2 separate regions of the Homo sapiens genome follow, and region 2 is linked to region 1. Evidence: fine-mapped QTL for protein levels in blood plasma. Region 1 holds a variant in brackets. A gene starts in the other region. All regions are shown on their reverse strands. Region 1 overlaps ANO5 (anoctamin 5). Region 2 holds the start of FABP3 (fatty acid binding protein 3).

Evidence for each region. A credible set is the group of variants that fine-mapping cannot tell apart. PIP is the chance, under the fine-mapping model, that this variant and not a neighbour inherited with it causes the effect. The UK Biobank Pharma Proteomics Project read protein levels with antibody pairs (Olink). The fine-mapping took linkage between variants from a reference panel, not from the people measured, so its PIPs are less certain.
Region 2: FABP3 starts here. The variant in region 1 is the best candidate, but not a certain one, in a credible set for the plasma level of the FABP3 protein (UK Biobank, PIP 0.61).

Annotation. Positions count from the first base shown.
Region 1 is chr11:22,247,736-22,250,651 of GRCh38, reverse strand. It overlaps ANO5 (anoctamin 5), which reads right to left. Exons shown (of 22, transcript NM_213599.3): 10 at 281-415. Among named protein-coding and RNA genes, the nearest start is that of ANO5, 56 kb to the right of the region's middle. The variant T/A (reference allele first, on the strand shown) is at 328.
Region 2 is chr1:31,371,400-31,374,315 of GRCh38, reverse strand. FABP3 (fatty acid binding protein 3) reads left to right here and starts at 1,240. Exons shown (of 4, transcript NM_004102.5): 1 at 1,240-1,374. The coding sequence starts at 1,302. It overlaps LOC124903892 (a long non-coding RNA gene), which reads right to left and starts at 17. Exons shown (of 2, transcript XR_007065573.1): 1 at 1-17. RefSeq lists a silencer at 760-1,054.

The DNA of each region.
Region 1 (2,916 bases):
TTCTCACATATAACAGAAGGGGCAATCAAGCAGCAATTTCTATAGTGGGTCAAGTCATGCTTTGAGGAGTAGAGTTTTCAGAGCCCAGCTTTAAAAACAGATTTTCCATAAAGCACCAGGTGAGAGGCAACTGTTATGTTTGAGTAGTTTTTGGAAAATATCGATTATCTGCTGCTATAAGGAAACATTCTGAAGGAAATGCCAGGGAAATAATAACAACAACTTCATTTGGCACAAGATAAAGATGTTTTCTCTATCTGGGCAACTCAGGTGCACTTACCTGCTTGTGTTATGTTCCATTGATAATAAGCCATAAATAAAACAAGC[T/A]AAGCCAACTACAGCTGCAAAGAATAGCATTTCTGTGTAAAATCCAAGAAAGACAAAATAGATACCAATTTTTTCTCCATAATAATTCCTGTGAAAAAGAGTAAAAACAGAATCAGAATATGGAAGAATGTTATAGTCTGGAGCCTTGATTTTGTATTCAGACAGGCATATATTCTAATTTTGGCTCCACTGCTTTCTAGACATGTAATTTTGGTGAAGTTACTCAACTCTCTAAACTTCAGTTTCCATATCATTATCATGTTTTAACACAAGATGGTGCTTATGCCATACTGCAAGGACTGATACAAGGATTAAAAGGGATAACAGATATAAGTAGAAAGCCAATTAAACGGAATTTAACTTTAAAATTTAAATAAGATAATTTGGAAAGCCTCTGTATTATAAAGAGAATTTAAATGGTTTTTAAATAAACTACAGAATATTCTACAATGTAATTTCTAGGAATGAACTTAACAAATCAAAACCATATCCAAAATCTGCATGGACTTTTGCTTTATCTCTCTAAAACTGAAAACATTTCTCTGACCGCATTGTAGATATACATTTCCATCTTTCTCCAAGTTTGAATCTTGGATGTTTACAGGATTGTGACATATGCAGCAGGCCAAGGAATTAAACATGACTACTTTAGCAAAAATTCTATGAAATATGCAGCCTAGCTCTTGGTTTTCAAAGAATTGAAAAGTGACAGCGTTTATCGGCACAACATTTTAATTCTCACAACCAAGTGTTTTGTTTTTAACTTAGTACCCATTTAGGAATGAGAGAAAGTAGTTTTCTCCTCCTCAGAAAGTCAGGTTTTCTTGTTGTTGTTGTTTAACCTGATTAATCTTCCTCCTTATTCATATAGATCCCAGCTCACCAAATCTGTGAGTCTTTCCACAGTTTCCTAGGCAGAAAGATGTGATACCTTTTGTGTTCTAGTAGCATGCCATATGATTCTGTGAAAGTACTTAATATTAAATTGTAATTTCTATATATGCTTAACAAGAACACATATCTGAACATAAAGGTTATAAACATTTTTTCTCAATGAGATTTTAAAATGTATTTATCATATTCAATATTAACTTTATTGAACATCCCATTCTTCATATTTCAACACTCTTAATATTAATAGGCATCTTTCTGTTTATCCTGTCTTTTTTCATTCTTTTCAGTGATGATGAACATTGTTGCATTGTTAATTTCCCTAATTTGGTTTTCCAGATCACTATAAACTTGAAATTAAATTATAATGCCATCATATTCCCTTGCTAATCTGCCATTCACAACTTCCTTAGCTTACTCAGAGTGAATGAACTTTTTCTCCCAGTTTTTTTCTGAAAAATGTAGAAATTATTGTAATAGTACATGACATCAAAATCAGAAAAAGTACAAAAATATATTTTATGAAATTTACTGTTTACCATGTCTATTTTTAATGTTTTAAAAATGGCAGAATCAATGTTATTAGAAATATAATATCAACATTATTGCTATAGACTTAACTTAAAAATTCTTTAAGTATTCATAAGGAAACTGGATATTTCAACAATCTTAGTTTTAAAGTACTACTTTTTTCTCCTTTTCAATTGTCACAAGTCTTATTCCTTGAGCATAAAAAACAAAATCCCTCAAGAACTCTAAACCTGTCAAAAAAAGAAATTGCTGAGAATTTACTAAATGAAATCAGGTAAGTATTTATTACATGTGGAAATATACAAATTATCTTACTAAACTTTGGACTTGGGTATCTAACAGTAACAGATTAACAACGAAATAATCTTTCAGGATCTCAGAAAGCAGGAGATATTTCTTAGATTTGCAATATGGTAAAAATGCATACATTATTGAAATCACATTTAATATTTAATTTAAACTATCTTGTTAGTCATAACTAAGAAAATAAGAGAAATCTAATAACATGAGACACTCTACAAAAGCTCAAATATAGGGAGAGCCTTCTTTTGAGTATTATTTTTTAGAAAAATATGCCATATATTTAAATCTATGATCTTTTTTAACCTGTCCATTTTAATTATTAGACTTTCAACTGATCTGTGGCACTGCACCATTTAACACAGCATCTGATAGGTAGATGTGTGTTAGATACTGTGTGAGGGGACTGCTCTCATTTTGTATTTCCAAGATGTAATATTTAGTTGAAGACATAGTAAATAATCAAAAGAATGATGATAGAATTAAATTGAATACAATCTTGATAAATCAATCAATGCAAACATTTTTTTCTAAAATGACTTATTTTTACAATGAATCCATAAACATCTGAGAAACTTAGCTTCAGTATTATCCTCACATTGTAATAACATTATCTGTACCACACATATATTTAGTCTATGCTATTTAGTATGTAGCAGTATTTCAATTTTGTTTCTAAGCATTAACATACAACATATGGATATCAAAAACAAATTACCTGAAGTGTAAGCTGGAAGGAAAAAAAAATGAGCTGATAGAGCTGATGTGCCAGTGATCAGTCTTCAACTTTATATGCTCCATCAGCCCATTTTTCTCAATCTTAGCATTGCCATTTTCCCCAAAAATATTATCTAATGTGACAAAACT
Region 2 (2,916 bases), not on the chromosome of region 1:
GAGGCTAAGGTAGGAGGATCCCCTGAGCCCCGGAGTTTGAGGCTGCAGTGAGCTATGATGGCGTCACAGTACTCCAGCCTGGGAGACACAGCGAGAGACTTTGTCTCTAAAAAATAATAATAAAATAAAAAGTTCAATGAAACAATACACCCAAAGCCCTCAGCATGCAATAAATAGCAAGACAAGGCAGGTCTTATTTTTACTGAAAGTGCTTAGTAAACTATACAGTGACAAACCACCGCACAACAGGCTCTCGAAAGGAGGCAGCAAATTACCCAAAAGTGCAGGCGGCTTGCTAGTGTGCACAGGCCAAAGAAAGGGCGGCAGGTGGGGAAGGCAGCCATGGGCCTTGAAGAGCTGACCGAATTGGCAGAATTTCTGCAGGAGGGGAGCTGGGAACGACCTGAGCTAAAGCTCGGAGCTGTGCGAAGAAACCGGAAAAGCCCAGAGCACTTGCAGGGGCGGGTGGGGAGCTAGATGGTGGGGTGGGGTGGGGACGGAGGAGGGCCAGCAGGAGACATTCCGCAGGGAGGGGCAAGCACGTGTGAGGCGGGCGGGGCGCGAAGGGTCAGGCTTTTGCTCAAAACAGGCAGAGGACAAGGTCAGCTCAGCCGCAGACCGAGCCGCTGGTGACTGTCTCCGCCACCAGGCAGTGAGAGTGAAGGGAGAGCGCGAGCTCTGAAGCCCGCTAGACTAAGCTTGCAATCTGAGCTCCATTCACCCCCTCCTATTTCTTGAGACCTTGTCAGTTCCCCTGTGAGCCTCGGACTCCTCACTTGTAAAACGAGGACAGATGCCCGTGCCAGAAGTCAACCAGAGCTTTCCCCGGCGTGGGCACCAGCCCAAGGGCGTTTTGCTTTTCTAGTCTCATCTCTGCTCTGACGCTAAGCTCAAAGAGGGACTGGGGGACGGGAAGATATCCACCATGGCATGCGCCCTAGCTCTCGGGCTGGTGTTGGCTGCTTCCTTCTCAGATTCCAGAGTGCCTAGAGGCCAGGAAAGGGAGAAGGTCCTACCAGCCTGGGGTAGGGACTCGGGGGCCAGGCACTGGCGCTGACGCAGGCTAGCAGGGCGCCACTGGCTGGTCCCCACCCACCTCGGTGGGTTGGGGGATGGGCGCACCAGCCCCTCCTGGGTGAGCCCTAGCCTGGGGCTTCCTATTTCGGGAGCCGGGGGCGTGGGCCACGTCTCCTCATGTGATGCGAGGGCTATTTAAAGCGGCAGCCCGGGCAGGGAGCCGCCGTCGGAGCCCTTGCACGCCTGCTCTCTTGTAGCTTCTCTCAGCCTAGCCCAGCATCACTATGGTGGACGCTTTCCTGGGCACCTGGAAGCTAGTGGACAGCAAGAATTTCGATGACTACATGAAGTCACTCGGTGAGCAAGCCGCGGGGCTCAGGATGTTGGCTTGGGGACTGGCTGGTGGCGTGCCTAGCCCCACGCAGCACTCCTGCCGCATCCCTCCTGGTTAAGACTGGGGAATAGGGGAGCGCGGAGATGGCAGCCTGGCCTAGAGCAGGTGGGGCCTGTTCAGAGGGGGCTTTGGTGGTCCAAATCTGGTTAGAGACCACGGTAGGGAGGTGGTGGAAGGAGGCAGCTGTGTGGGAGGCTCTTTCCAGGAAGAGGGATATGTGATTTGGAGGTAGGAGGAGGGTTTGGATAAAGAACACTGATCACAGGAAAGGGAGTGTAGCCAGGGGAGAAAAAGAACAGGGGCATGGGTAGTTTAGAAATTGGAGGAGACTGAACCCAGAAAGGGAATGGGGCAGCCAGGGAGTGTACAATGATGTAAACAAGTAGGAAATACCTAGGAGGAAAAAGATTAGTGGGGAAAAAACTGTGGATCAGTGAATCAGATATGAGAAGGACGTAAGACAGGAACCTGCAGTAAGCAGCAATCCCCATCTCTGCTTGGTTAGGGAAGAGAATTCTTGCTGGAGAATGCCCTTTCTCACCAGCCAGTCTGACCTTGTCCTGCAGTCTATGTATCCAGGCCTTCATCACTGTCTGTGAGCCTCGTGGTAGGGTGGGGCAAGAGGCCCATGATCAGCTGGGCCTTTCCTGCAACCCAAGGCTCACCTATCTGTGCGAGGGGTAGGCAGAGAAAGCCATTGGACTTCTGATGTGCAGTAGAGGGTCCCAAGGCAAGGTCAAGACCTGGGAGGGAGGATCACTGGTTTAGGAGGATGTGGAGAACTGCTGTGGTGTTGGGATGGAGAAGAATCAGGATTCAAAGAATCTCACAGGTGAGGAACTTGGAGATTCCCATACCATCTAGTTCAACAGGGAAACTGAAACCAGGAGAGTAGAAATGTATTATAACAATTCCACAGCAGAGCCAATATGAAAATCTAAGGTTTCTAGATCTGTAACCCAGAGCTCTTCCCACTACCCTACAGGCCCTGCGAGTGGGAAGAAAAGTAGAAACTGCTTAGCTAATGATTGACCTCAGCCCTTCTTCTACTGCTTTGGGCTTAGATGGAGAGGTCAAAGCTCTCAACGGCCTCTACCCTATCTTGGGCGCTATGCCCAGTAATTCTAGGCAGGCAGTCATTCTTAGAGGAGCAGCCCCCAGCCCCCACGAACACAGCCCAGCAGCTATTGGGAAGTTGGAATGCCCAGATTTAGTTCCTCCTTCCAAAGCTGGGCCAGAGCTGAGTCTTGAATTGAGCTGCAACAACTTTACCATTCTTGTTCCCTTATTCTGCCCCGAGTTGGGTCAGCGGGCTGGTCTCCCTGAAGTCCTGTTATCTTTCAGCAGCTTATGTTAAGGCAGCCAGCATTCTCATCGTAGGAATGGAAAGCCTGGGAAAATACCCTCCTCAGCTCTCAGTAAGTAGTGCTGGCTTCATTTCTAAGTAGAACCCAGATCTCCCTGAGTCTCCTAAATTCTGTCAGCTCAATATTCTTAGTTTCTCT